2 separate regions of the Homo sapiens genome follow, and region 2 is linked to region 1. The links come from fine-mapping of genetic effects on gene expression. A gene starts in region 1. The other region holds a variant in brackets. All regions are shown on one strand. Distances are between the middles of the regions. Region 1 holds the start of TMEM65 (transmembrane protein 65). Region 2 holds the start of FER1L6-AS2 (FER1L6 antisense RNA 2).

Region 1 (16,182 bases):
TTTTGAACAAGAATTTTGTGTAGTATTAAGAAGAAAGAAAGAGTAAATGTGTTTGTTTACCTTTTAAGTAAACTGCAAAAAAAGAAAGAGGGGAGAGGAGAGACAGATTCCATCTCATGCTATCTATTAGGATTTCTGATTGTGTGGAAAATAGAGTCAATCCTCTATCGAAGAATAAATGGTTTTGCTTTTAAAAACCTTTTAATTACCACTTTGGCTAAAGGTATGACAATTATTTTACAGTGATCTTTGATCCTATTTTGATTAAGTGCGTTAAATCTTTGACAAATTTGATGCACTTCCAAAATCAAATTTCAAATTGAAAGTTTAGTCTTTTGACCTCAAACTAACTTTGAGACGTTACACAGAGGGTCCTTGCAGCATCCAAGAGAGAGATAAGAAACAAGCTTATCTGGTAAGTTAAATTACATGGGAAGCATTGTCAAATAAGAAATGATGTTTAATCTTCTTTGAGTTATAGTTTATGGATATGTTACTAATATATAGTCCAAAATTGTATAAGCCTCCTAAAATTCTGGTGTGTCTTGGTATGTTATCAGTCCTAATTATGGTGATTATTTTAAATTAATTATTGTAGGCCACAGAAATAACCAAATTTTCTTGTCAATTGTGTCTTTAACCATGACCATTTTAAGTCATTTCCACAGTTAACTGCTTAATTCTGATGCATTTTCAACCAAGCAGCCTGTTCATTAATCCCCTACAACTGAATCTCCATAATACCTGATGTAGACATCCATGTAAAACAAGAAGCGCCTGTAATCCCAGCACTTTGGGAGGCCGAGGCGGGCGGATCACGAGGTCAGGAGATCGAGACCATCCCAGCTAAAACGGTGAAACCCCGTCTCTACTAAAAATACAAAAAATTAGCCGGGCGTAGTGGCGGGCGCCTGTAGTCCCAGCTACTTGGGAGGCTGAGGCAGGAGAATGGTGTGAACCCGGGAGGCGGAGCTTGCAGTGAGCCGAGATCCCGCCACTGCACTCCAGCCAGGGCGACAGAGCGAGACTCCGTCTCAAAAAAAAAAAAAAAAAAAAAAAAAAAAAAACAAGAAGTATCAACAACTGCACAGATTCTTCCCCACTTAGCCAGTAGGTAATCTAGAGCAATTCTATTATCTAGTACAACTTTAGTAAGAGAATGTAAAGGATTTTGTTGTGCAACCATAGCCTTTGCAGTAGAATCTACTATAAAACCTATTATGAGGGATATTATCAAAGAAAGATCTTTAGTACAAGAGCTAGAGTCAAAAATCAATAATAATGTGATAGATGCAACTAGTTAGCTGAAAACACAAAAGAGAACAGTGATCCTTGAAATGTCTATCAAGATTAAACCCTGCTGAAAAGCAAAGGGAGGAAGTAAAAAGACAGGAAAAAGAAGAAAATTAAACACAATGGAAGAGTGACAATTGGCAGAAGTAAAATCAGACTTTAGAAACAATAACAGGATGTCATGAAGCAGACCTCCTTACACAGCAGAAAAGAGTTTACCATAACTACAAGGAATGAATGAGAATAGAGTAGAAAAGTCTGAGAGCACTGAGGAGGAGGGAGGGGCAGACTAAGCCCAGCACATTTCACTACCACTATGACAGAGTCTAAAAAGCATGCCAACTGAAACAGCAGTGTTCTGGAGGCATTTGGTGTAATGATTAGCATGTCTACAAATAGAAGTAACCTCAAAGAAACTTATTGTATTAAAATATAGTATATAAGGACTCCGACATCTGGTAGAAGCTAAATTATGCTCATTATATTTTTACTAAGGCAGATAAAAAATGCAATATGTTCAAATATTTTATCATCAAAAGCAATCAAAGTAAATGTCTCAGAGCTTAGGAGAAATGATTTTGTTACCTACAGTCTTTTATCTACAAGAACCTCTTATTTACTCTTACCTCTTATTGTCTGTCTGAGGTAATTTTAATATATAACTACTTGTTTTTATGTGTTTTCCTTTACTTAAAGCAGACATAAACCTGTGAGTCAAAGACAAGGCTACAGTCCTGTAAAGCTACATACTAACTAATTCAGATGACTTGGGCAAGATGCTAATAAAATCTACACTCAAGGATTTAGTCCCTATTTGTTCAAGTTATTTTATACCCAGACACACCAAAGGAAACCAGACAAGAGTGTGGTTATGCAAACTCATCACTATTTTTAGAAAAATGAAAACAATCTCCACTAATAATGGCAAAATATCACATCATCTCAAACTTTCAAGATCGTGATCTGTAGTTCCACCTGACCCTCTGGATGACCCTATAAATTGCTGACTTTATATTACTTCAATTTTCCTATCCACAAATTTGATCATAACAATTTGTCACAAATAAAAAATAGGCAATAAATGACTATTAAGGTGAAAAACAGCAAATTAATTACTGATAAATTAAACTATACATATAAGTGTTTGACTTACCTGGAAGCCATATTTCCCAAATTTCTAATATTTACAATTTAGTCAAGAATTTAGAAGTGAAGAGACAACACAATCAAGGAAAACAATTACCCAAAAGTTTATTTAATAGAGAGGTGAAGAGTCTGATAAGGAATCACCTTTCTGTCCTCCTTTTAATTTCCCTTCCCTTGAATCTGAACTGGTTTTAGTGACTTGCTTGACCATTACATGCAGCAGAAATAATGTTCTGGAACTTCAAAAGCTAGGTCATAACAAGTCTGTGGTAGGATGAATAATGGCCCCCAAAGATATCCCACATTCTAATTCCCTAACCTGTATATATGTTACATTATATGGCAAAAAGAATTTTGCAAGTGTAATTAAATTAAGGATTTTGAGAGAGTGAGATTATCCTGGATTATCCAGGTAAAACCTAAATATAATCATGAGGGTTCTTATAATAGGGAGGCAAAAAGGTCAATGAGGGAGCAGAGATTTTAGTGATGTGTCCAGGAACCAAGGAATCCCAAAAGATGAAAGAAGCAAAGAATACATTCTGCCCTGGACTCTCTAGAAGGACAGAGCCTTGCTGACACTTTGATTTTAGTCCTTTAAGACTTATTTTGGACTTTGTACTTTGACAACTCTAAGAGAATATGTTGTTTTATGCCACTGTATTTGTGGTGTTACAGCAGCAATAGAAAACTAATACAGGCCGGGCGTGGAGGTTCACGCCTGTAATCTCAGCACTTTGGGAGGCCGAGGCAGGAGGATTGCTTGAGGTCAGGAGTTCCAGACCAGCCTGGCCAACCTGGCAAAACCCCACCTCTACTAAAAATACAAAAATTAGCCAAGTGTGGTGGTGTGTGCCTGTAGTCTCAGCTACTCAGGGAGGCTGAAGCAGGAGAATCGCTTGAACCCGGGAGGCAGAGGTTGCAGTGAGCCAAGATCACACCACTGCACTCCAGACTGAGTGACAGCACGAGACTCCGTCTCAAAAAAGAGAAAGAAAACTAATACAAAGTCTTACAGCTTCTACCCAGCCCCCTTGGAACATTTTCTCTGGGATCCCTGACCTAAGTATTACAACCATGCTAACATTGTCATGCTGGTGAGGCCACATCCATCTCCTTGGGTCAACAGTTCCAGTTGAGGCCAGCCCTCCAGCCATCCACCAAAGTACCAGACACATAAACAAACCGATGTTGGACCTTCTGACCAGACCATCAGCCAGCCAAAGTTTATGTAATGACCTCCATAGATACCATAAGAAACAGCATCCAGCTGAGCCCTGCCTATATCCTTTTTTTTTCAATTTTATTTTTTTATTTCCTATGAACTCTGTACCTGCAACTGCCTATATTCTTGATCCACAAAATCATGAGCTATGATAGAAGGGTTGTTATTTGAAGTCACACGTAACTCTGGACATGTTATATGTAAGTGATGATTAAACACTGTTAAACAGCATATATGCCTTTCATAATGGAAAAAAAAAAACTTTACTTGATTACTTGATTATCTGTCTTCTACTGGCAGTAATCCCTAGTAATAAGACCATTCCAACATACCCCGTAACTCTAAAGAACTCAGAATTAAGCTTGCTGAAATATACTACTGTAATTAGGTTCTTTCCATATTGGTAAAATAACTGATTGTAGCAAAGCTTCATTTAACTGAGTGTAACTCAACTTATAGAAGCCCATGGCTCATCAGAGATCTCTCACTCCTCTTGCCTCAATTCATACTTCTTATCCACGTCCTTGTTCTTCCCCTCTTGCCGGGCCTAGGTGGGGCTATACTTCCCTTATTCCTTTTTACTATCTCAACAAAGGCACTGAAATATCTTTATTCACGTATCTTTATTTGCAGTATAAAATGTTTTTCTTGCCCTTTTTCTTATTGGACAAAAGCAAACTATTCCCAATCCATTCCAGAGGCTCATAGCTTAAAATAATTTATATTTAGGCTAGGCACGGTGCTCACAGCTGTAATCCCGGCACTTTGGAAGGCTAAGCTCGGTGGATCACCTGAGGTCAGGAGTTCGAGATGAACCTGGCCAACATGGTGAAACCCCACCTCTACTAAAAATACAAAACTTAGCCAATCACAGTGGTGCATGTCTGTAATCCCAGCTTCTCAGGAGGCTGAGGCAGGAGAATCGCTTGAACCTGGGAGATGGAGTTGCACTGAGCTGAGATCGCACCACTGCACTCCACCCTGGGCAACAGAGTGAGACTCTGTCTCAAAAAATAAAAAAAATTTAAGAAAAGAATTTCTATTTTCTCACATAATCCTGAGCAATGGGCTGAAAAAAAATAAGGATAATCTTGTTAAAGGTCCAAGATCTCTAGTGAACAGGGATTCCATAAGAAAGCCTAATTTATTTTTAAGTGTTTTAGATACTCAATTTAGTATAAGCTCTTTATCTTTCAGTCTTTCATTTTGTCAACGTCCTCTTATACTATATGGCAAGTTCTCAAAACAAAGCTCTTCACCCTACCTTAAACAATCACAAAAAATGGGGGACTACAAGATTAAAGTTTAGAATTATTTGGTTAATGTATACAGACGTAGATAAATGGTAAAAAATGTCAAAAGCACACAATTACCACTCACATAGAGTAATCAAAAAATGCAAGCTAATTGAGACCTAACATTGATAGAAAAACTGCTCTGTTCACCTCAATACATCTTTTATTTGCTATATGTAAAAACAATCTCATTTTTTAAATATCTTAAGTATACATATTATAACAAAAATATTCCCTAAGAGGCTCCCTTTTTCAAAACATATCTCTCATTGTACCTCTCCAATAGCCAGTTCTTGTCTCTCTGTGTAAACTCTCTGATGAGCATTAATTACACCACCTTAAATAATGTGGAAGCCAACCTCAAAGATGTACCCCCGATGATTCCCACTCCCTTGTATTCACACCTTGTGTAGTACTCTCCCACAATGTGTCAGGACAAAAGAGATGGACTGTCACTTCGAAGACTGCGTTTTAAAAGTCTGTGGCTTATAGTATACATATTATAACAAAAATATTCCCTAAGAGGCTCCTTTTTTCAAAACATATCTCTCATTTTACCTCTCCAATAGCCAGTTCTTGTCTCTCTGTGTAACTCTCTGATGAGCATTAATTACACCACCTTAAATAAGTGTGGAAGCCAGCCTCAAAGATGTACCCCCGATGATTCCCACTCCCTTGTATTCACACCTTCTGTAGTACTCTCCCACAATGTGTCAGGACAAAAGAGATGGACTGTCACTACTAAGACTGTGTTATAAAAGTCTGTGGCTTCCAGCTTAGGTGCCCACAGGTGCTGTCTTGCAAACACACTCGCTCTCTCTTGCTCTCTCGCTCTCTCATCACTTGCTCTAGAGGAAACCCACTGCCATGTCATGAGAATACTCAGGCAGCCCTGTGGAGGACCACATGGGAGGGAATTGAGACATCCAGCCAACAGCCATGTGAGTGAGACTTCTTGGAAATGGATCCTCCAGCCCCAGTTAAGACTTCAGATGATGCCACCCCAGCTGAGAGCTTGATTTCAACTTCTTAAGATCCTGGGCCAGAAATACTCAACTAAGATGCTATAGCATTCCTGAGCCTCAGAAATTATGAGTTAATACATGCTTGTTTTAAGCCACTGTGTTTTAGGATAATTTGTTATACCGCAATGGATAACTAATACAATGAGCACTGTCTATTTTTCAATACCAAATTGCTATATTTTAAAAGCTTTAAAAAATAATTATAAATGGAAATATTAATTACAAAAATTGGGAAGAAAATTTGTTTTAAAAATTTTGGCTAACATTGAAAGGCCACTGTAATAATGTCAGCTTGCCAGTACTACTTGTAAAAACATGAATAATGCTCTATCAGCAGAATATGGTCTGTTTCTGGAAGAAGAGAGATCAGGCTGAGCAGGTAAATTGAAGGCGCAAACTCAACTTTTTTTTAAATTGGGAAAGAAATTGGTTTGTAATTTTAAAAATCACAATATTCTATTTAACTATGATAAGATATCCCACAAGGTCTGCCTTATCTATTACGAACTGATTCCAAAGCTTTATCTCATCACAGATTATATCACATGCCTACTGATAAACATATAAGAAAGATAAGGGCAAATGTGCCAAATTTCAACAGCAGATTCCACTGCCATATCAAAGCATGGATGATATTTTTTCAGTAACATTTCCATACCAAATCCAAAACACTTCATTAGTTTATACAAGCACCCTTTCCAAAGACACACAAGATTGCCTATGGCAAGAAATAGCCCTTTAAATAGAATTAATTTTGTTAGAAAGTACACTTAGTACACACACACAATACATCGGTTGAGTACTTCAAAACATTATTCAAAAAGCAACAATAAAAGAAAACATGGGAGTTTTTCATTTATCTGGCTGGAAAAAAATTGTTGATTTCAGCAATGGAATGAGCTGTACGCATTCCCAACATAATAAAATCCCTTTTACCTTAATGATTAATGAATAAGGTAATTTCCTAAGTGATGATTCTAGTTATCTCCATAACTATATGTATTGATACTGAAAACAGTAAGTGAACACCAAGACTACATACACTAACAAAGCAGCAGCATCTGTGTCATTTGATTCATAGGACAATCATTTTGTCATCGACATCAGCAAAAATAGCTGATTTAAACTTTGATGTTCTTTAGCATATAAAGAGGAGAGATAAGCATCTGACTAACCATTGTTTCAAATATCCTTGACTGTTTCTCCTGAGCAAAGAAGACAATTTAAATTACTAATTTCTCTCTCATATTAGTAACATAACTAAGTTTAATTGATGCTAATGATCTCCATTGACTAAAGTGCTTAGGTCCTTTTCAGAATATTTAAAACCACGTTAAATTTAAAAATATTATCTTTATTAGGAAATGTAGCATTGCTACTGCAATACTGCTGGCATGTAAAAAATAATAATGTATGAGAAAAAAATTATTCAGTCACCTTGCAGGACATGTTTTTCAAGAACTGCCACAAAACTATATTCATAGGGCCCTCCAATCTTGTAACTTGTTGACAATGCAGAATTTCCAAGAAATTACTTGGAAAAGGTAAAATGTGTGTTCAAATAGTCTTGTCAGTGCAGAAAGATTCAAAAGTTAATGTTCTAGTACATGACTGACTATATTATTTTTCCAAGGAGCATATTTTCAGAATTGACTATTTTTAAACTGCATACTGAGTGCACACATAGATTACAAATGTGCTAGTGTTTCATTATGATTGCATATAACATCATGATTACACATTGAATAACGGAATTGATCGGACGTTACATTTTCCTGTAAAAGCACTGTGGGTAAACAATGTCTGGAATCAATCATCCACTATAAATTGGTCCACAATTTCCTGAACTGAGGGGGAAAACATCTGATTAAAAGCCACAACTAAAACAAGTTTCTGAAGTAGTACAGATAACGTCCTGCTTACATGAGGTAGATAATTCTTTCCTCCATTCCTGCACATCAGCTAAAGATATACTTTCAAGTCTGGCAAATCAAATGGCATGATCCGAATCAATGTGCTCTACACTTTGGAATCTATGAGATGTTTATGTACCTACCAAGTTTAGAGAGGAGAGTAAACTTTTTTAAAACTTTCAAACACATCAGAATGTAATACAAACTGAAGCAATGTGTTTTGTTTACATAACTGTATTTAAGTGGCAGAAATATTTTAAGACATCCATTTTAGTCGTTTGCTCCTTTCATCCTTTTTATTTTCTGAACTTTTAGCTTTTTCACCTAGACTCAAATTCTGCCCTACCCCATTCTGGACTCCTTTTAGAAATATCCTATTTTAACATGCTAGTTTAAAAATCGTTTTGCTTTCATCATTCCCAATTACTTTTGAGCATCAGTCTGACTTTTACTACAGAGCCACAGATTTCCAAAAAATATACCTCCTTATTTATTTCATTCTTTCAACCTCTGGGAAAAACCAAAACTGGAGTTTAACTTGAATCTGTCTTTCCATTTCTGGAGAAAATGTTTCCTTTGGCTGCTGAAATTAACGCAATCAGACATGTGTGGAAACAAGCAGCTATGAGCATCCCTGACTTTCGAAGCTACACCCCTTCTTTTGGCTACCCACCCATACGTCTTCATTTGATAACCGTTCAAAAAGTTTCTTCCTGCCAGGCGGGTTTGCAGCACTTTCTCGGAGCAGGCACAGCATGCCACCTGCACGGGTGCACGCTCGCAAGAAAGCAGCAAGGGCTAAGGGACAGGAGGGCTGGGGAGGGGAGGCACGGGGCAAATCAAAACTCAATCCCAACAGCGTTAACTGGCATTTTAGGCCGAAGCTCCGGATTCGGAGGCTGGGGAGGAAGTAGCTAGCGCTGGCCTCGGCTGCCTGGCACGACCCGCGCCCGTCCTACCTGCCTGGGGGAAACTCGGGCGGCGGAAAGTCTCCCCGCCCCCAGCCGTCCCAGGCGTGGGGCCAGACAGGCGAGGGGGGCGGAAGGGGGGCGGCGGCGGGGGTCCAAGATCCAGGGCCGCAGCGGGCTCCCGGTGGGCTGGCGAGAAGAGGAGGGCGTCGGGGCCCCCGGGCTCGCCCCCCACCTGCCCCCCTTACCTTGGGCAATGGCAATAGACTCGAAGCGGTGCAGCTCTTTGAGCAGGCAGCTCCTCTCCGTGGAGTGCAGGCTGTAGATGAAGTCGCGCGCGCCCTGCGCCGTGTTCAGCGCCTCCATGGGCTCCTTCTTGGGGTGCGTGCCCAGCCGCCTGGGGCCGCCCGGCAAGCCGCCGGGGGGCGCGAGCGCCAGCAGCCCCCGCCCGCAGCAGCACCAGGACGGCGGGCGGGGCGCGGCGGCGGCGGCCGGGCCCGGCCTCAGGCTGCGCGCGGTCCGGCTCCTCAGCAGCGGCAGCAGCCGGGACATGGCGAGCTGAGGAGCTGGGACCCCCGCGGCCGTCCGGCAAGGCGGTTTCTGGCGCGGCTGAGGCGAGAAGGAGCTGGGCTCAGCTCGACCCCGCCCCGAGGTCCTCCTGCCAGGCAGCCGAGGCGCCGGGCACCATGCACTCCGCGGGCCCGCGCGGCTCTCGCCTCCTGTTCCGTCCCCACTTCCTTTCCAAAAGGCCCGCGGCGGCTCCCGCCCCTCCGATGGGAAAAACTTTCTCTGAGACGGCCGGGCCCGGACAGCGCCCGGAGAGGGCGGGCGGTCGGTGCGGGCGGGCGCCTCCCGGCTGAGGAGGAGCGGCGCGGGCGGGCGGGGCGGGCTAGTGTGTGTCTCTGTCAGTCTGATCTTCCAGAGGATGAGTCAGCCACGCACCGCCCTCCTCCAGCGCCGCCCTACTCTCCCGCCAGCTTTCTCACCCTCTAGCCTCCCCACGTCCCCACTCTGTAAGGTTCCCGAGCCCTCAAAGCAGCCGCGCTCCCGAGCCGCAGCCGCCGCCGCCGCCGCTACCCCTAGCGGCAGCAGAAGTGGGAACGGGGCGGGGCGAAAGGGGAAGGAGGTGCGGGGGGGCGGGGAGGTGTGTGAGCGAGGCTGCGCAGGCGCAGTCTGCAGGCTCTCGGGCCGCCCTCCCTCCTAGGGGAGGAGCGTGCACACGCGTCCCCTCCCGCGCTGGTGCGTGAAGGTGGAAGGAGGTAGGGTGCGCCACCCTGTGCTGGCGTTAAACCTACAGATCGGAATAGGGAAAACGAGCTCTGGACCCCTCGCCCGCCAGGGTAGTACAGCTGCCACCCGGCCCCCAACCTGGGGCCACATCTGGAGCTTGTTCTGAAAGGTGCCCCGGCGTGCGGCCCCGCTCTGGACAGGCGGAGAGCTGCGCTGCCACCCCAGCCCCGACGGGATCACGGCGCTCTGCTCCGGAACGAAGCGCCCCAGCTGCGCCCTTCGCCAAGTCAGCGCCCACCGCCGCTTCGGCCGAGCAGGCCGGCTCTAATGCAGTCGCTCTGGGCGCCCCAAAGAGAAAGCGAAGCCAGTTCCACCCCTGCCCAAGGAGGGTCTGAGACTGAGCCCTTGACACGAGAACAGTCCTCCCCGTTCAGATTCCAGCAGCTGGCATGCAAATTGTTAATGCTAGAGGCAGAGGCAAGAATGTCATAGACCTTTCCTAGTGGTTGCTTGTGATTTTTTTGTCTCTGTGCTAAAGCGGGAAGAATAATTTGATTGTCCACGATTTCCCCTGATCCAGGTCCTAGGCATCTTTCAAGGCCCAGGTGAAAGGTCTCCTACTTCATTAAGCTGTCCCTAATCTCTTCTAAGGGAGGAGATCTCTGCTTTATCTGAACCTGTCTAATGACGCTTAGGCACCCTTAGAGAATAAATCCACTTAATAAATCTGCTGGAGCGTAATCAAGATCTAAATCCCATCCTTATCATAAACAGTGCTGCACTCAGCCCGGAAACTTGTAGGTAGTAAATGTGCTACATGTAAGTAGAATATTAAACTGAATAATGGAGGATTGTTACCACTAAAGCCTCCTACTTCTCTAACTCTGGTTCTCAAAGTGTGTCCCAGAGCTTTTTAGACGTGAGAAATAGTGGACCCCACTTCACACCTCCTGAATCAGAACGTAGACATTGGACCCAGTCATGTGGGTTTTAACAAGCCCTCCAGTAATAACACACACGAAAGCTTGAGAAACACTGATGTCTCTTAAACATTGAAAGGAATCGCTTCTTTTTTAAATTCCAAGGTGATGCCTCTGTGATGTAATAACAACAATTAAGAATGCTCTCTGTGGAAATGAAAGCTTTTTGAGTGCATAAAGTATATCTTCCTTGTCTTTGAAACCCCCTTCATTCCCTAGTGTGCACTGGAATCCTCTGCAGAGCTATTTCAGTCTCAGGCTCATGGGAGTACCACCCCATCCCCCCCACAATTTCCTACCCCCAAGATATTCTGATTCACTGGGGTGGATCACAGGCCCCAGACCTGGGAAGTGAGGTTTGAAAAAAGTTCTTCAGTAAGAACCCATTCCCAACCACCTCCAGAATAGTAGTTTAGTGTGTAGCCTCCAGAGACAGACTGTGGAAAGTTCGATCCCTGGATCAACCGTCTCCTAACTATGTGTTAGTATTAGATTGTTATAGTAGTGATCCCCAATGAACTACACCTTCTATTATCCGCTCCGTTGTGTGGTCCACCTCTACATTGACTGTGGGCTTGGCTATTTGACTTGTTTTGGTCAATAAATAGGAGGACATCATAAACGTGATATGATACATGTTTGCTCATTGGGGTTTGCTGTAATGCTTTTGCTATATTACTATAGAATATTTAATTCTATTATAAAACAAGAGAAACTAAAATGTAGAAGCAAGTCACTTATGAGAAAGGTTACACATAGAATGAATGGATATGGGTTGAACATAGATAAAAAGGATGGAACAAATGAAAATGCTGCTTTAGATAGAGGCAGAAAGACAAAGTGGACTTTTAAGTATTAATAAGGTACAGATCATACTATCTTCAGATTTACAGCCATGTCATCCCTAAATTGCATACCTACTGGTAACACCCATTGTAACGCTATTATGGCCTCATGTAATCTCTTCCCAAGAAAAGCAGATAAACCCCCAGCTACAAAGCCAACTAATGCCAGCTACCATTATAACCAGACACACTTGCCCCTCAGCTCTGTAACAGAACAGACATATGTTGAGCCCAGGCCCCTTCAGTCTGTTGAGTCACCTTACTTACTCTCCAGTCTGGTCCTTGTAGCCACACTATGTGCTGAGAAGACTGGATGGTGGAGAGGGATAAGACATGAGAACATTGCATAAAACAGAATTTAGGTGCTATGGTCCTTCAGCCTATCCTAAGCTTATTAATCTACCCTATCTCTTTCCCCTTGCTTCTCACTCTGTTTTATGTTGGTTGGTAAACTCTTCTGGTTATTATTGCTGCTCTTTGGGTAGACACATTATGCCAAAACTTAGTAGTTTAATTAGCCAATTTATTTTGCTCTTAATTTTGAGGCTCAGAAATTGGGGAAGAACTTACTTGGACAGTTATTTTATTGGAGTCGTTTATGTAGTATCAATCAGATTTCAACACAACTGCTGTCATTTGAAAGTTCAGCTGGGCTGAATAGCTAAGATGGCTCACTGACATGGCTGACTGGTAGCTCAAATGGGGCTGAGAACCAGAGCACTTTCACACAGCCACTCCAGCATGGTGATCTTCTCACCAGACAGCTGGCTTTCCCCAGAGTGAATGTCTAAAAAGAAGCAGGCTTGTGGCGTTTTCTGACCTATCCTTGGAAGTCACACAGTATCACTTCCACTGTATTCTACTGGCTATAAGCCAACCCCTAGGGCCAGCCCCTATTCAAGGGAAAGGGATATAAACCCCACATCTTAATAGGAGTAATGCCAAAACCTTTGAGGATACGTTTTAGAACCACCAGATAATGTGATTTAAGCTTCTTAATTTGGCCTATAAGCCTATCTATTTCGTGACCTGTAGGTGTATACATGGAGGCTGCCATTGCATCAAGGTAATTTTCCACATGGAAAAATTGCCTCGAAGACATTTACCTTTTGGAATCCAGCTGCTGCATAAAGAAGTCTGATGTATCCTGCTGGAAAGACCAAATGGAGGAGGAGGCCGTAGCCAACAGCCCCAGCTAACTGCCAAACATGCATGACAGCATCTTGGACCATCCAGGCTCAATTGAGCCCCAGATGACAGCATTGGGGTTGAGAGCACTAGCTCTAGACTCAGACTGCCTGGATTTGAGTCCTTATACTGTCATTTCTTAGCTGTGTAACCTTGAGCTGATCAACCTTTCCGTGGTTGCCCATCTGTTTAATGGGAATAAGAACATGTTCAGTTTGCTCACCTGTTAAATATAGATAAGGGCATCTGCTTTGTAATGTTATAGTGAAACCAAATAATACATGTAAAGCATTTCAAACAGCACCTGATACATGACAAGCATGCAATAAATACTAGCTATTATTATCTAAATGCCCACGGACCTCTCAAATCTCTACGATTATGTCTTTGGACCCTCATTTGAGAAATGCCCACCTAGCTATCTGTCATTTAATACATGGATGTGTATTAACTGCATCCCCTAACCACTTCCTTCTCTGAACACCTGAATATCCTAAATATGAATGGATGAAGGATCTAGGGAGGGAGATAATTTGGGGATCGTTTATGGGGCTGTGGAGCAGGTCTAGATGCAGGTGGCAAAGGGGAGTTTCCGAAGAAATATGATGGTGCTGAAGAGGAAATGCTAGCAGGCTGGAGGGGCTACAGAAATGGAAGATAGAAGGAAGGAAAGCCCAGAAGGCAAACTTGGCCTGAGTTCAGCCCAGCCTGTTCTTCGCTTTTAAAGAGGACAACTGTCATACCTCGGTTAACAATCACAGTTTCCTCCTCATGAAAAATTGCTGCTGAATCATCAGTCCATGGTAAGCTGCATCATATAAATACGCTCCAGAGTTCCTGGCTTCCCTGTTGCTGGCAGGGCACACAGCTGTTTGCTGCCTGCCATTGATGAAACTTTATACACCCAGCTATTCTGCTTTAAAATTCTTGAAATTGTTGCTTTACCTAGTGGACCCTTTAATCATTTCTTCTGCCCATATTTTTGCAATTTCCTCATTGCACTTCTCATCCATCAAGCTCCTGCCTTAGTATTCTGACCCCTGGAAGGCCTCTGCCCCATCACAGTGGTGGTGAATAAATTGTTTCTTCACAATGGAAACCACAAAGTCTTATTAGAACAATTAAAGAAGACTTAAATAAGTGGAGAGAAATACCAATTCAAGATTGAAAAACTCAGTAGTATAAGATGTCAATTCTCCCTAAATGCATTTGTCAGGGTTCTCCAGAGAAACACAACCAATAGGATATAGAAATATATACAGAATGAAATTAATTATGAGGAATTGGCTGGTATGGTTATGGAGGCTGAGAAGTTTCATTATCTGCTGTCTGCAAGCTGAAGGCCCAGGAAAGCTGGTGGTATAATTTAGTCCAATTCTGATAGCCTGAGAACCAGGGGGTCACAAGTGTAAGTCCCAGTCCAAGTCTGAAGGCCTGAGAACCAGGACCACCAATGTCCGAGAGCTGGAGGAGACAGATGCCTCAGCTCAGGCAGAGGTAGTATTTTTACCCTTCTTCTGCCTTTTTGTTCTATTTCAGCCTTCTGTGTATTAGATGATGCCCACTCACATTGGTGAATGTGAACTTCTTTACTCAGTCTACCAGTTCAGATGCTGATCTCCTCCAGAAATACCCTCGCCAACATACCCAGAAATAATATTTTACCAGTTACCTGGGCATCCCTTGGCCCAGTCAAGTTGACATAAAATTAATCATCACACCAAATTAATCTATAAATTCAGTGTTTGATCCCAGTCAAAATCCCAGCTGGGTTTGTGTGTCTGTATGTGTGTGTGTGGAAATTGTCAAACTGATATGAAAATTCACATTGAAATACAAATAGATATAGCATACCAGAAAGAGGATTGATCCCCTGAGCTTGAATCCTAACTCTAACACCTACCAGCTGTATCAATTCGGACATGTTGCTTATCAATCTAAGCCTTTGTTTTTTTTGTTTGTTTGTTTTTGTTTTGTTTTGATTTTTATGAAAATCTACCTCACAGAATCATAAGGGTAAAATGAGACAATGTATGTTTAAAAAAAGAAAGACACAGTACCTAACATGTAGTAGATGTTCAACAAATGATAGGTAGCATTAAAAGGCCTCAAGATGTAAAAACTAGTGTTAGCAATAGACCGTATATCTAGAAGTGTCAGAGACTAATTCAACTTTAAAGCTAAAAGAAAGAGAACACAACTAGGATCTCTGTTTTCTCAGCTTTCCTTCACTCAACAACCCCTTACATTCTAGCTGTCCAGGTTTCAAAGGAAGAAGTTTGGATACATAAATTTGGGAGTCATCAGCATCCAGGTATCATTTAAAGCTATAAGCTGATCAGGTTGCCATTGGGGTAAAGATAGAGATGAGCAGAGAGTCTGGTCCTGACCCTGGGACTCCTCATCAGTGAGAACTTGTAAGAGGCACATGAGGCAACAAGGTAGAAGGAAAACTGGAGACTGCTGAGGTTTATGGCCTGAAACTATGTTCACCTAATGTAAGACTGGTCATTTTTGTTGTTGGAAACTTGAATGATTTTTGTAACCTTCTCCTTTGCATTTGTCTCTCTTGCTTGAATTGTTTATGATAAGTATACACAATTTAAACAGAAACAAAGAAAGTAACTATGGAATTATTTTGGTCTAAAATACCTGAGAAATCCTAAATAAATCTCAAACAGACAATCTCCTCTTTTGAGTCCTTTGTACTCCTCTACACCATTCATTCAATACGGCTTTTCATCATCACCACTGGGGCACTTCATTTCTAAAGATTTTATCTAGGCTGGGTGTGGTGGCTCACGACTGTAATCCCAACACTTTGGAAGGCTGAGGCGAGTGGATCAATTAAGGTCAGGAGTCTGAGACCAGCCTGACCAACATGGTGAAACCCCCCTACTAAAAATACAAAAATTAGCTGGGCATGGTGGTGGATGCCTGTAATCCCAGCTACTTGGGACGCTGAGGCAGGAGAATTGCTTGAACCCAGGAGGCAAAGGTTGCAGTGAGCCAAGATCATGCAACTGCACTCCAGCCTGGGCAACAGAGTGAGACTCCATCACAAAAAACAAAAAACAACAACAAAAAAAGATTTAATCTACCTGCTAAAAAATGCCAAGCACAAGGCAAGACAT
Region 2 (16,182 bases), 190 kb before region 1:
GACTTAGTTCACACCAGTTAGATTCACACAAGATCTGATGAAAAATGAATTATCTAAGGAGGTGCCCTCACGCTGGGAAAGCAAGTATATTAGCAGAGGTATCCACTTTTGTGGGCACTGCAATGGTGGATACTCAGTCTGGTCCCAGTGAGGCTTGTGTCAGGGTAGTGATAATGGTGATGGTGGCAGTGCCGCAGCAGCTCCCATGGCACCTATCCTGACTATATCACTTCAGAGCTCTCTGAGCTTCCTCAGATTGGGACCTACTGAATATCTCTAAATAAATCCCTTTATTGCTTGAAATAGCAAGGGTTTATTTTGTTGTTTGCAAAACAAAGCCTGCCCAATGTTAACTGGAGCTCAGAATTTCAGATTACCTGAGGCCAGGCGCGGTGTCTCACACCTGTAATCCCAGCACTTTGGGAGGCTGAGGCAGGCGGATCACGAGGTCAAGAGTTCGAGACCAGCCTGGCCAACATGGTGAAACCCCATCTCTATTAAAAAAAAAATACAAAAATTAGCCAGGAGTGGTGGCAGGCGCCTGTAATCACAGCTACTCGGGAGGCTCAGGCAGGAGAATCGCTTGAACCTGGGAGATGGAGGTTGCAGTGAGCCAAGATCATGCCAGTGCACTCCAGCCTGGGCAACAGAGTGAGACTCCATCTCAAAAAAAAAAAAAAAAAAAAAAGATTCAGATTCCCAAACTCAGAACTCTTCCCCTGCCATGCTCAGGGATTAGCTTTAAACCCACAGCTTCCTTTCCTCCAGATGAGTAACTGAAGATAAAAAACTGAGGACACCTGGAAAGAGAACTTGGGACTCGGGGACTCAGTCCAAATGGACAGCCTTGGATAGGGTGACACAGAGGAAAACTGAGGTCACTGCACCCCACTAGGGAAAGCAGAGGGAGAGGCAGGAAGCAAAAGAATTATTAGAAAAGGAGAAGAGAACTCAGATTACTGAGTATTGGATTCGTGCCAGGCACAATATTAGGCACTTTATAAACAGCAAGTAAAAAAAAAAAAAAAAGTATATAAGATAGACAGATATTCCCAGCCTTTCTCACGTTCCCACTTGGTAAGGAGGATTTTTAACTAGGTATATATATATTTGTTTTACAAAAATAGCATCACACTCTGCCCTAAGTTGTGTCTTTGAGTATGCCTGTCATGTCTAATGTTAAGTCATGCTGTTCTTTTCACATTTCTGCTGGTGGCAAGGCATTCTATTTGTGTGGATGTACAGTCTGCCCTCCATATCTGAGGGTTCTGTATCTATGGAATCAATACTGGAAAATATTTGAAAAAAAAATGCAACAATAAAAATACAAATTTTAAAATATAGTGTTAACAACTATTTACATAGCATTTACATTGAATTATGTATTACAAGTAATCTAGAGACGATTTAAGGTATGGGAAACTGTGTGTAGTAGGTTATATGCAAATATTGTGCCATTTTATATAAAGGACCTGAGCATCCTCAGATTTTCGCTTCTGTTGGGGGGTCCTGGCACCAATTCCCTCCATGAATAGTAAGGGACAGATGACTATACCATAATTTAAATGATCCTATATTGGTTGGCTTTTATATTGTTTACAGTTTCTAACCAACATAATCACTATTATAAATACTATGATATAAAGACCTTTACGTATATTAATTTGCTCACTTGGCTGAATACTTCTTCTGTATTAGTCCGTTTTCACATTGCTATAAAGAGTACCACCTAACACTAGCTAATTATAAAGCAAAGAGGTTTAATTGACTCACAGTTCCACAGGCTTAACAGGAAGCAGGGTAGCCGGCTTCAGGAAACTTAGAATCACAGCGGAAGGTGAAACAGAAGCGTACACGTCTCACGTAGCAGCAGGCAAGAGCGAGCTGGGGAAACCGCCATTTATAGAACCATCAGCTCTCGTGAGAATTCACTCACTATCACGAGAACAGCTTGCGGGAACCGCCCCTGTGATTCAACCACCTTCCAACAGGTCCCTTCCTGGACCTGGGGATTATAATTGGGATTGCAATTCAAGATGAGATGTAGGTGGGAACACAGAACCAAACCATTCAACTTCCATGGGCTAAATGCCGAATTACTAAATCCAAGAATTACTACACCATTACTAAGGTGCAGGGTAAAAGCCCCTGAGAGTAATAATTTAAGCATACAATTAGAATAAACCTGTATGGCAGACGCACCTGAATGTGTGTTTCAAGCTAGGGAATCCAGGAGTGGCCAACCCAGAGATTCATTCCTTGTTTATGAGAAACATCTGAGTCCCCGTCCCGTCCCGTCCCGTCCCGTTGAACATGGGCCATAAGGAAGGATTGAGGCCCTGAGTTTGGGCGGCGGGGGGGGGGGGGGGGGGGGGGGGGGGGTACCTGAAAGTTGCCAGGTGGAGGTCGTTAAGGGGAAGCTGTTAACTGAAAATGCTATATAAACTACACGCTGTTTGCAGGCCGTTGTGTTTTTCCTGCCCAGCCTGCCACCACTGGCCTGGATATAAGGTGGATATCTTGTCCAGCCCGGTGCCACTGGACTCTCTCCCCTGTATGTAAGCCGCTAATAAAACCCTATGTCTTGTTTGCTGGGTTTCTGGCCTCTTGAACCTGGTGTCTTCCCTAATGAGGTTAATAAAGGTTCGGCACAGCAAAAGGTGTCATGTAAATACCTTTAAGGGTTTTGGCCTGAATTGCAAAATTGCTCTCCCAAAAGGCTGTAGCACTCTTCTCCTACAAGTAGTATGTAAGACTCTGTTTCTCCATACCTCCCCCAAGGCTAGCTATTATTCTTGTAATCTTTGCCAATCTGATAAAAAAAATTGATTTGATTTTTTTGTAAGACTTTGATTACTAATTAAGGATGGACATGTTGGCTTCTTGTTGAGCACTTGGTTATCTCGGCACACAGGAAATTTCTTTTCTTTTTAACTCAAACACAGGATTTGAGGTTCCTGAACACCTGGTATAACAGAAAACTGGTTGGGCACGGTGGCTCTCGTCTGTAATTCCAGCACTTTGGGAGGCTGAGAGGGGAGGATCACCTGAGGTCAGGAGTTTGAGACAAGCCTGGCCAACATGGAAAACCCCTGTCTCTACTAAAAATACAAAAATTAGCCTGGTGTGGTGGCACACACCTGTAATCCCAGCTATTTGGGAGGCTGAGGCACGAGAATCACTTGAACCCTGGAGGCAGATGTTGCAGTGAGCTGAGATTGCGCCATTGCACTCTAGCCTGGGTGACAGAGAGAGAATCCATCTAAAGATAAATAAATAAATAAATAAATAACAGACAACGGCTCCCTCTCATTCTCCCCAGTTGATTACAGGACCTAGCAATGTCCTGTAGAGTAAATTCTCCTCCCAGCCTGCCTAAGTGACAGCCCATTACTCAAGCTGAGCAGGGGCCCACCTCTCAATCGTGCTGTCCAATCCCAGCTCCTCTTTGAAATAGCAACTTGTCTGTAATGGGAATTTTCAATCCTGGCTGCATATCACCTGGACTAAACATTTTTTATTCTTTAGTTTAAATTTTTTTTCTTTTAAGAGTACATAATATATTACTCACGTTTTTTAAAAACACAGAGGGAGATTCAGTTAAAAGTCTCCCTATTATCTGTGGCCCCCATCTGCCCCATTCCCCTCCCTATAAGCAACTGATGTTACTAATTTCTCATGGATCCTTCCAGAGATATAAACAGATATTTAAAAATGCTCTTTTTGGGGACCCACGCCAGAATTTCTGAATCAATTTCTGGGATGAAGAATCTGGAAACTTGAATTTTTTTGAAAAGCCCACAGTATTGTTGAATTATAATCAGGGTTTAGAGCAACTTCTTGAGTATATCATTCATTTATGCATTCAACCCACATTCATTGAGCATGTGCTTTTATGTGCCAGACACTGTGCTGGGTGCCAGGGTGAATCAAACAAAGTTGCTAGTCTCATGCAGCTTTGATTATAGTGCAGGGAGAAAGCAGAAAAAACAAACTGTAATTATTGAAAAATTGAGAAGTTCTATGATGAAAACTAAAGCAAAATAATGGAAAGTCTTCCAATTGCTTTGATCACAACTTGAATCTCCTTCTTTCTCATTTAACCTTTCTTACCATCTCCACTGGAGAGCAGGTGAGAGACAGAAAGAAAAAAAGGCAACATTTTTCAGGAAATTAGATTATTCCCAGAGCCCAAATTCAGAACAAGTTTGAAGCTGGTGCCCAGGGTTCTTCCCATGTGGTATTTATTTCTCTTCATTAGCGCTGATTGTTGAATTCTTCATAATGGCTTAGAAATAACGTTAAGAAATGGCAATTTGCTCATTACTCGGAAATAGAATGTCGAATTTCTTCTTTCTCTTCTACAATTCAGTAAAGCCTATGCTAAATCATTGTAGGGGCTCTGGGAAGCCTACCCGGCATCTGAGAACTTGTGGGGAGCAGAGGGTGTCTCTTTCAGAGTCAGGGTAGCACCTAGTGTCTCCTAGAGGGAAAGGCAGCAGGAGGTCCACTTGCCACTGACACTTGAAAGATTCAATTCTACAAAAGACTAACATTATCAACATGTGCCAGGCACTGTGTGGTAGGTACCATTATTATCCCACTTAAAAATAAGGAGGAGGCCAGGTGCCGTGGCTCTTACCTGTAATCCTAGCACTTTAGGAGGCAGAGGCAGGTAGATCACTTGAGGTCAGCAGTTTGAGACCAGCCTGGGCAACATGGTGAAAGCCCCATCTCTACTAAAAATACAAAAATTAGCCAGATGTGGTGGTGGGGGCCTGTAATCCCAGCTACTCAGGAGGCTGAGGCAGGAGAATCTCTTGAACCTGGGAGGTGGAGATTGTAGTGAGCCGAGATCACGCCACTGCACTCCAGCCTGGGTGACAGATTGAGACTCTGTCTCAAAAATAAATAAATAAATAAAAATAAAAATAATTAGGAAACTCAGAGTTAAGCAGCTTATCCAAGTCATCCTGCATTCAGACCTAGGTTTGCTAGGTTTGCTGACATCAGTTTGGTATACCCCTACTACCCCTCAAAGTTTTGCCTGGAAACTTAAATGAGACAATCTATCCATTACGTTCTCCAGAATGGAAGCTGCCTTGTTTTTTTTTTTGTTGTTGTTGTTTGTTTGTTTGTTTGTTTGTTTTTTGAGACGGAGTCTAGCTCTATCGCCCAGGCTGGAGTGCAGTGGCGTGATCTTGGCCCACTGCAAGCTCCATCTCCCGGGTTCACACCATTCTTCTGCCTCAGCCTCCTGAGTAGCTGGGATTACAGGTGCCCGCCACTACGCCTGGCTAATTTTTCTTTTTTGTATTTTTAGTAGAGATGGGATTTCACCATGTTAGCCAGGATGGTCTCAATCTCCTGACCTCATGATCCACCCGCCTCGGCCTCTCAAGTGCTGGGCCTTGTTGTTTTTAACTGGCTAGACTCACCTAAATCTGACAGCTACAGACTCACATCCACCATTTTTTTGGAACCAAACTGATGAGAAGAAAGGAGGCAGAGGAGCGTAAAACCATGCAGTAAAGCCTGGAATTAGCCTGCCTGTTGCAAGCTGGGGCCCAGAGTGCCCCATCTGATACCCATGGGCCACACTGTGAGAAGTTCCTGAGTCAGCTTCCATTGTTAGTGCTCAGAAACTTGCTCATTTTCTCCTCCATATAACCATGAGTCACAGGAGGACTTACTCCTGTTACTATAGCGTCAGGCACAGAGGAGGTACTAAATGTGGAATGAATGAAGACATGACAGAATGAGCTGCCTCCCCTTCCCAGCTGCCTCTTTCAGGCTGGACCCAATCTGTGTGTCTTCAACTGCTATTCATTTTGCATTTACCCTTGCCATTTCACACTTAATTCTCACACCAGTCACTGGGATAGGAGGTATTAGCCCACTTTACAGATGAGGAAAGTGAGGCCTACAGTGCTTATGTGACGTCTGCACTGTTTGGAAACAGCTGGGGTAATTCCAGCAGCCCCAGTTCTGCTCCCTCCTCTTCCTTCCCCATCAGCCCTCCCTAAGGCCTCAGCAGACCTACAACCCAAATCCAATCTCTCCTCTTTAGCTGTGTCCCACTGTTACAGTTGCTGGTTTCTTCAAAGAGTTGTTTTTGTTTTGGTTTGTTTTAGAGATGGGATCTTGCTATATGGCTCAGGCTGAACTCTTGGGTTCAAGCCAATTCTCCCACCTCTTCCTCCTGAATAGCTGGAACTACAGGCATGCACCACCACATCTGGCTGGGGTGGTTTCTTTCAGGATCTTAATTCCTAATAACCAATAGATTTTAAACTGGCAGTGTCCCCAGGGCTGCTATTGGGCAATAAGCTTCTGCACTAACTCTATTTTGCATACTTTAATGTGCAGACAAATCACATGGGGATAATGTCGAAATATAGGTTCTGATGCATTGGACTGGAGCAGGATCCCAGATTCTGCATTTCTAGTACACTCCCAGGTGAGGAGAAGCTGCCTGTCTGTGGACCACACTTGAGTAGCGACAAGGCACTAATTCTCATTAGGCCCTGGCCTAGAAACAAATGTGTTTTGTTCCTCATTGTTAAAAGTTAAATTGTGTCCCTCCAAAAAGCTTATGTTGAGGTCCTAACCTTCAGGACTCAGAATGTGACCTTATTTGGAAATAAAGTATTTGCAATGTAATTAGCTAAATTGAAATAAGGTCATCCTGGAGTAGTGTGAGCCCCTAATTAATTGAATAAGACTGGTGTCCTTGAAAGAAGACCTCATGTGAAGACAGACACTGGGAGAACACCACGCAAAGATAGAGGCAGAGATTGGAGTGAAGCATCTACAAGAAAAGGAACATCAAGGACTGGCAGCTGCCACTAGAAACTGAAAGAGAGAATAGATAGAAGACTCTCCCACAGGGAACCAACCCTACCAACACCTTGATGCTGGTCTTCTGGCCTCTAGAACCATGAGACAGTGTCTTTCTACTATTTTAAGCCACCCAGTTGGTGGTACTTTGTTACAACAGCTACAGGAAACCAATACACATGTGAGCCCGAAGAAAATAAAAATTAGCCAAGAATGAGAAAGTAAAAATCTGCCTAAGGGATTGCAGAGATTTGGTCAAAGAATACAAAAGTTTCAGTTACACAGGAGGAAAAGTTTAAGAGATCTATCGTACAGTATGGTGACTATAGTTAAGAACAATGTATTTCATACTTGAAAATTGTGAAGAAAGTAGATTTTAAGTGTCCTTGTCACAAATAAATGGTATGGGGTTAATGCATGTGCTAATTAGTTCAATTTAGCCATTCCACAATGTGTACATATTTTGAAACATGTTGTACACCATAAATATGTATAATTTTTATTTGTCGATTTTAAAATGAGATTTGTGGGAATAAAAAGATACATGTTAAAAATTAAATATAAATTTAAAAATTCTGCCTAGCCATTCATCAGACTAAACACGGATTAGGCAGAATAAGGCAATTAAGACAACAGAAAAAGATAAGACAGAGAAGAATGCCGGCACAAATACATTCAACAGCTGCGTGGATAGGAGACAATATTTCTCCCCAGGAGCCACAACATGTCATAGCAAACCCTTCTCTGTGACTGTTACTTCTTACTCACTGAGGGACTTTGTGCTCTAAAATCATAGACTATTAGAAACATCACCATCTGAAATCATTTCAGTAAGAATGAGATAGCCCACTCTGGCCTGGAGAATCCAAGTCACTTTGACACAAAAAAGCAGCATCGATTTCCAACTCCATTACAGAGTTTCAGATAAGGAGTTTCTAGACACATTTCATGTCTACCTTCACTTGGTAGTTTCCAGGGAAACAGCAGCCTGCCTCCACTTTGCTGTTCAGAACTGATGGTCCCTTTATACACAGCCTTGATTTGTTTTGTGCTTATAAAAACTCTGCTTCATTTCAGCTCTCCCTGACCTCCATACTTTCCCCAATTCCTATGATAACTCCGTCTTCCTTTGTTTGGTGAGACTCTCCGTGATTCTGTGGTGTGTGATCTCCCTCATTACAATGTGTCAATAAATTTGATTCTGTCAGACTACGTGGTTGTCCCTGATGGTCTTAGGCTGGTTGGGCTGAGACACACTAATTTGATTTCCAGGGCTTACCATGTAGTAATGGCATCTTACAGCTGGGAACATCAGAAGGACCAGCTGTTAATGAGCTTGGAATTCTACCTCTTAGTTCTTTTCTTCTCATCCCACCTTTTTTCTCCTTTTCACTTCCAACTGAAACTTTATTTTCCTTAGATCCATTTCTAGTCCGAAATCACTGCACCTTGCATCCCTACATTCTAGGAAAAGTCATGGAGTGACCGAATTTAAGATCTGCCGGTCACTGGCAGCTTAACTTACAATTTCTAATTGTCAGTTTCAATGTGTGTAGAATGGGAATAATAGTACTCAACTCAGCAGGTGGTTGGAAAGATCAAATGAGATAATCCACAAACAGCACTTAGTGTGAGGCCTAGTGCATAACGTGCATCCTATAATATTAGCTGTCATTATGTTGTTGTTAAATAGGACAGGCCCACAGGAACTGGCTCTGCCCTCTTTTATGCTCTTTTCTTCTACCCCCATGGTAAGACATTTGTCCCCCTTACAGAGAGAAGACAAGCCCCACCCCTCAGAGAGTCCCCCCACCCCTCAGAGAGTCCCCCCACCCCTCAGAGAGTCCCCGCACCCCTCAGCCCTGCCTGAAAATGACCCAGCAGAATTTCTCCAAGTAAGATTCAGGGACTGGGGGCAGTGGTTCACGCCTATAATCCCAGCACTTTGGGAGGCCGAGGCAGGAGGATCACCTGAGGTCAGGAGTTTGAGACCAGCCCCTGGCCAACATGGTGAAACCCCATCTCTACTAAAAATACAAAAATTAGTTGGGCATGGTGGTGCACGCCTGTAGTCTCAGCTACTTGGCAGGCTGAGGAAGGAGAATCGCTTGAACCCAGGAGGCGGAGGTTGCAGTGAGCCGATATCATGCCACTGCACTCCAGGCTGGGCAACAGAGAGAGAATCCATCTCAAAAATAGAAAAGAAAAGATTCAGCAATCACCTACATTAGCATCAA[G/A]TGACAGAACTTGTCAAAAATGTTCATTTCTGGACCAATGGAATCAAGTCCTCCAGGTCCAAGATGAAAGTAAATAGTAAGGGGCCCTTGGGAACAAGGCTGGAAGGGTCTTTGAGACCAAATTACCAGGACTGATGACACTCATCACCCACCACTGTCCATTCCTTCACCCAAACAATATGGCACGAGCCCATCCTGAGCACAGCACTGTGCATGACTCAGACACACAGGGAGGTCAAGATAAGTGAGCCCTTATCCTCATGGGGTTTATAGTCCAGTGGAGAAGAGAGAGCAATAAGCAGTCAAAATACAGGGTGCTGGGTGCAGAGTGCACGGAGAAGAAATGGGCAGGACTGTGAGAGACAGACAAGGGGCACTCAATTCACATGGTACGAGGGGTCACAAGGCTTCCTGAAGTAGCATCTGAGCAGAGCCCTGCACTCTGAGCGTTACCCAGACGGAGGTGGGGAGGGCATTCCAGGCAGAGGGAGCAGTCTATGGAAAAGCTAGGCAGAAAGAACAGGTTTGAAGAATTGCACATGGCTTTGCATGAGGACCATGGAGTGCTAGGGATAAGGGAGGTGAGCCTCGCAGTTGCCCAGCAAGCAGCACCAGATGGGGAAAAGGCTTGCAGACCAAGACACATAATGATCTGGGCTTTAGTCTATAGAGAAGCTTAAAATGGGGGTGGGGGTGATGTGTAAATCTGATTTACATTTTCAAAAGATCACCCTGGATACTGTAGAAAATAATTAGAGGGGAGCAAGGATGGGTGCCTTTAGAAGGCTATTGCATGGTAGAGGGGAGTGGTGGTGGATTGCACTACAGTAATACCAGTGAGGACGAGAAAAATGCATAGATTTCAGAGCGTTTGGAAGCTCTGGCCAACGGGACTTGATTATTAATGAGAGGTGCAGAGTGTGTGTGTGTGTGTGTGTGTGTGTCTGTGTGTGTGTCTGTGTGTGTGTGTGTGTGTGTGTGTGTGTGTGTGTGTGTGTGTGTGTGTGGTGTTTGGGTGGGGTGGTGCTAGCTGCAAGGGCATGAAGCCTGAGTTTATAAAGGGAGTGTCTGCTGTCACAGGCGTTCTGGGGAAAGGGCTGTAGCTCTGCTCCCCTTCGTGCCATGCCTTGCTCCCACCAACAGCTGTTTCTTTCTACCTGGACAACAGATGCCTGAACATCCTAGGACCTATCCTCTTTTTAGAGATTACACGTTTGTGTTGTAATAATCCATTGTGTGTCTGCCTCCTCTGATTGAGCTGTGAATTTCTTATGGCAGGGACTGGGGCTGGGAGAAGTACTGACATAGCACTCACTAAGTTCAGTCTTCAGACCACTAAATTGGGGGTTAGGATTGAACATGCAGTTTCTGGGGCTCCAACTCCAGACTTCTAGAATCAGATTCACTTGAAGTAGGGCCCAGGAATCTGCCTGTTAATCAACACCCCAGGTACATCTGAAGCTTAAGAAGTTTAAGATTGTGCTTGTTACATGCCAAGAAAGATTCCTTTGGACTATAAAGGGAGATCCCTTGGACTATAACGTCAAGAGGATATACAGTAAAGAGGACAAGCTCTGGAGTCAGCCTGAGACCTATTTCAGATCTTCATTGAACCTCAGTGCTCCCATCTCTAGACTGGGGTACTATGCCCACTCCTCAAGGATAAGTGGGCTACTGTAATCTGTGAAGCACAGGATGTGGCACAAGGCACCCACTCAATGAACACTGGTTGAATAAACTTGCAAAAGACGGTGACCGCAGCATGCAAGCAGATTTGTTTGCATTTTCGTCTCAGATTTCCTTTGCTACTTCATAGTCACTAAATACCAGTTTGACTTGAACAGCAGTTACATGCTAATGACAAAAAGCAGTGGCGTGCTTGTTCTCAGAAACCTGAGAATCCACTGGCTCTGTTAAAATGAAATTCTACTGAGTTGACCACAAGGACATTTCCTTGTCCCCAGAAAAAGACTCGCCTAAATTAAGTTGCAGTGTAACCTCTTCCAAATGTTGCCCAGACTGAAGAGTGCTTTCATATTATTCCTTTATCCAACTCTCTTTCCATCTGGCCTCTTTGTAAAATTCTTCCTCCGTTGTTTCAGAACTAAAATGACACCTTCTTAGAATTCCAGCATGCTACTTCTCAGTAGAAAGTGTGGTATATCAGAGGCAGCGGGCTTGGGAGTCCGTTGGGAGGCCTGATTTGGAAGGCCAGCTCCAGCAGTTACAAGCCGAGCAACCCTGAGCAAGTCACGTAACTCTTCTAAGCCTTGATGATAATCTCTGTAAAGTGGGTATGACAACAGTTTCCACATTATAGGGCTATTATGAGGATTAAGTCATCCTTGCACAGCCCTTAGAATGAAGGTTAGCACAGAGTAAGCACGTAGGTTGGCTGTTTTCAGATGTATTCAGTGGCAAATATGTGGCTGGTCCCTGAATCTCTCGGCTTTGTAGACTTATATGCTCTTTAACTCCACTCAGTGAGGCCTGTCTCTCTCTCTCTCTTAGGTCCAATTTCCATGTTCAATTCATAATCAAACCTACCTCAAAAAAAAGAAGTGAAGAAAATTTTCGCCACTAATGTGTTATTGAAGTGTCACCCTCAAATAATGAAATTCAGAAAATATGATGAAGTATTGAGTTTATTTCAGCACAAAGCTTGAGGATAGCCACTTGGGAAACATAGACTCCAAAGGAATGGGGTCAGTGCTCCAAAGTGGAGAAGTTAAGGTTTCACTTATAAGGCAGAGACAGAGAAGTGTAATAGGGTTACAACATTTTCCATGCAAGGTCAGTACATGTTACAGTGATTTGATTGGTTACAGCTTGTTGCATGCCAAGGAAGGTTCCTTTAACATTCCATAAGGAGGGGTAATGGCCTGGAAAGGTCTTAACTCTGGCACCATTCGGTCCTTCCGAATCATTTACAGGAAAAACCAGAAGTTGCAGCTGCATGCTATATGACTCAGGTCACATGGCCGCATTGCTCTCAAGGCTCAACATAATTTAAAGTTCCGCCAGCTTTAGGTTTGAATTATTTAATTTCACAACAGAAAGTAACTTTTCCTCTGACCTTTTCTGGAAGAATTCGTGGTTTCCTAAATTCCAGCCCAAAACTTATCTCAATGCTGCCAAACATATCTCCATGAATCAGCCAAATTCCTCAATAGGAAGGAAGCTTTTAAAAATAAAAATTAGACCCATTGACTGGGCATAATGAATAATAGAAGTAGTAGAAGGAAGTTATAATACTCATCCTTCCACTCTTAATTTCTGCCCAGGGTTCACGGCAAAGCAGCTTTGTGGCCCAGGCATTTTGTAAAATGGCTGTGGCTAGTGGCAGAAGGCACTTTGTGGCTCCTGCTGGACTAGGACTAGGCTGTCCTGAGCAGCTGCAATTAAAATCAGAGCACTTGGGTAGAGTCTGAAGTCTGTCTCAACAGGAGGACAGTATGCCAGCTATAGCTGCTCCCTTCTCTAGGGCTCATCTCCTTAGAACAGCGGTTCTCAAACTTTGCTGCATTTTGGAATCCCCATGTTGGAAGATGGGGAGTTTTGAAAAATCTTAATGCCCAGGCCAATTACTTAAGAATTTCTGACTTGGGGGGAGAGGGTGGGGTGGGGATATGTAGGACTCAAGCATCAGTAATAGTGTTTCAAATTTTAATGTGCATATGAATTGCTTTGTTAAAAATTGTTTCAACGTTGAATACAGATTCAGATTCAATAGGTCTGGGTTGAGGAAAGCGATTCTGCATTTCCAACAAGCTCCCAGGTGAGTCTTCACTGCTGGTCTAAGGAGCAGAATTTGGGTAGCAAAGTCTTAGACAGTTCTTCCTCCCACCGCATCCTGTACATCAAAATTAGTGCCTGACCCTCACCGGTCCATTGCCCAAGGTTGTAACATCAGAGATGAAGGCCTTTTCATTAGTTTATTTATTTCCAGGACCCAGTCTAAGGAAAGTGAGCTAATTATTATGGATTTATCTGCATTATCTTGTTTAAGGAGAAGACACTTAGAAAAATGGGAATTGAAATTTGTTCTTGCCATCAGATCTTGCTGATCTATAAAACACCATTATCCTTATACTTATTATTATAGAACTTTCCATTTTGAGCTTCTCCTTTCTTCCAGCTCCCAGGTCCTATAATAATATTCTTTAAGGACTTGCCCACATGGAGCAAAGCCAAATGGTGCAATGGTTCAGGAAGGTCACTAAGGGCCAAATGGTGTGTGCTTAAATTCTGGCCCTACCACTTAGTGGCTGTGTGAACATGGATGATTTATTTAACCTCTCTGTGCCTCGGCTTTCCCATCTGTAAATTGGAAGTTATAGTAAGTAAATGAATATATCTACAAGTAAAGGCTAAATGCTGTCCCTAGAACCTTATGTGAATTAACTCTCTTAGTCCTTATAATAATTTTACCAGGTTAACTTATCATCCCCATTTTGTAGATGGGTTAAGGATTTTGCCTGAGGTCACACAGCCAGGATTTGAGACCAGGTAGCCTGACTCCAATACTCATCCTGTTAACTACCAAGATGGACTATCTCTCACATGTAGCAGCTAGAACTACAACGGTGGTCTGCTAACTCTCAGCAAGGGGCTCCAGGACTGGGTCATACTTCAATTGTCTGCCATAGTCAGCCACAATCCCTCAATCCCACAGTCCCCCTGCAGTCTCGCATAAGGCCCTAACACCTACGCAGCCACTGTGCAAAGAACATGCTCCACCACCCCCCTTCTATGGGCTGACAACTGGACCATCTCAGGCAAGGTCTTTTGCATCAGCTCAATTCAATGAATCATCCACATGGCTGTTCACTTTCAGAGCACATTCTAAACACTGCTCTGAGTCAGCCTCCTGTGCTCAGTTTTGGAGGTGCTCAGATGAATTCAAACAAGCCCCTGCTTTAGGGAGCTCAGAGGGGCCTCAGGGAGGAGACAGATGTGTGAGAGATGCCTATGGTAACTCTCAGGAAGTGTTTAAAAGGGGAAATGAGGCCAGGTGTGGTGGCTAACGCCTATAATCCAAGCATTTTGGGAGACCGAGGTGGGCGGATTACCTGAGGTCAGGAGTCTGAGACCAGCCTGGCCAACATGGCGAAACCCCATCTCTACTAAAAATACAAAATAATAATAATAATAATAATGAGCTGGGCGTGGTGGCGCATGCCTGTAGTCCCAGCTACTCGGGAGGCTGAGGCAGGAGAATCACTTGAACCCAGGAGGCAGAGGTTGCAGTGAGCTGAAATGGCACCACTGCACTCCAGCCTGGGTGACAGAGTGAAACTCTGTCTCAAAAAAAAATAGAAAAATAAAAAATAAAAAGGGGTAATGAGCAAAGAGAGAAAAGCTCTGGCTGGGCACATCAGGGAATGCTTCTAAGAGGTAACACATAAGCTCAAGAATTATCAGGCAAATTAATGAATTAATCAGTTCACTGATAACACCATGCCTTGGTGCTAAAGATACAAGGGTATACTGGATAATTTGTTTCCTCCTCAGATCTGTTGGCTACTTCTCCCACCTGCTCTGTGCCCCCAGGAAGCTGACCCAGATGGACTACATTAGCAGGCTGCTTTGCCCTCTGGCTTCGGGTTGTGTTTGGCCAGGGAGAGGCATCAAGAGGAGATTAGCAGGTGGAAGAAGAATGAGGTTGGGTGTTTATTCCCTAAAGCATGGCCCCACAGGGTTGCCTAAAGTTGATTGCATTCCTCCACCCAAGGCCTTGGCTCCTGTTGGGTGACCCTCTCTATAGCTCTTCGAGTTCTAGATTTCTTCACTTGTCCTTTCAGACCTATAAGGAGGCTTCCTGCAGGGATTAAAAATTCCCCAGATGGAGTAAGAAAAAAAGCCATTACTTATTTATTCAATCAATGCATATTTATTGAACATTCAGATATCAGACCCATTTGAATGAAATGCTGAGCTTGGAAGTTTTAATAATGGTGGGAAATGGGGGGAAGGAATAAGTCAGAAACAGAGGGGTCATCAAGAAGGACAGGTGAGGGTTAAGAGCTGCATGGACATCTGTTTGTTCACCTTTCACCCCTCCCCCTTCTTTCCTGTTTGAGTACATTCCATGTGGATCAGGTGGAACCAAGCACACTTCACCCTATTCCCACCCTATCCCCAAAGAGGTAGACAAATGATCCAGGCTCATCTAATCAGAATACAGCATTCTCCAGGCTAAGAGATGAGTTTATAGACCCATGCAAGGCCAGTCAGAGTCCTTCAACAAGATCTGATAAAGGGATACTGGGAGAGAGGGGAAGCCAGTATTTAATAACACCAGGTACCAGGTACTATTTTCCAAAGCATTATTGGATATTTCTTCACAATGTCTTTTCAAAATGGATGTTTACTATCCTCATTTTACAAATGAGAAGACTAAGACTTAGGGAGGTTAAACATCTTGCCCAAAAACACAGAGCTAGAAAATGGCAGAGCCAGGATTCCACAGTCCAAACATTGCCTTTACTCTGTTGTTCAGAATACAACCATCGCCACAAAAGATATACTATTCAGTAATTTGGCAATTACTTTCCTTAAATTCAAATCAAACCAATACCCAGCCCAAGTCTGGGAACTGGGAATGCTCACAGAGAAGAGAAATCTGAGGTGGAGGCAAGTCAATGCCTTTAAAAATCCAGGTATCAAGGGGAGGACAGGTGGGGAAGCAACATGTCCCTGGATCCAGGGACTCTTGGATGACACAGATTGCTGGCTGGTAGATCACTGGCCAAAGAGTCAGGAACCTTAAGCCTCATTTTGTGCACTCTTCAAATTCCTAGGACATCTTTCCCCAGAGCAGGGATGGAGGAAACAGGGGAGAGAACCAAAGACCATGAAGAGTTTCGAGAAAGGCTGTCCTGATGCTCCCATCATGCTGCTGATGTCAGCCTAAAACATCTTGGTGTGCCAGGAAGTAAGGAAGTCCTTGAAGAATGATGGAAACTTGTCAAAAGAACATAGAAGACAGCTTGAAGAGGCTACTACAGGCCATTTCTGGGACAATTTGAGCATCACAATAAACAGCAATAGTAGTGAATTATTAAACCATACAATAAAGTAAGAACCTGGCCAGGTACGATGG

The links.
Region 2: its variant is fine-mapped to the expression of TMEM65 in lung (TOPMed, PIP 0.98).

What each region holds. Positions count from the first base shown.
Region 1 is chr8:124,362,801-124,378,982 of GRCh38, forward strand. TMEM65 (transmembrane protein 65) reads right to left here and starts at 9,901. Exons shown (of 7, transcript NM_194291.3): 1 at 9,054-9,901. The coding sequence starts at 9,357. RefSeq lists silencers at 8,924-8,973, 8,984-9,113, 9,164-9,293, 9,424-9,693, 9,814-10,043 and enhancers at 9,768-10,062, 10,274-10,463.
Region 2 is chr8:124,169,655-124,185,836 of GRCh38, forward strand. FER1L6-AS2 (FER1L6 antisense RNA 2) reads right to left here and starts at 1,868. Exons shown (of 5, transcript NR_103547.1): 1 at 1,774-1,868. The variant G/A (reference allele first, on the strand shown) is at 9,078.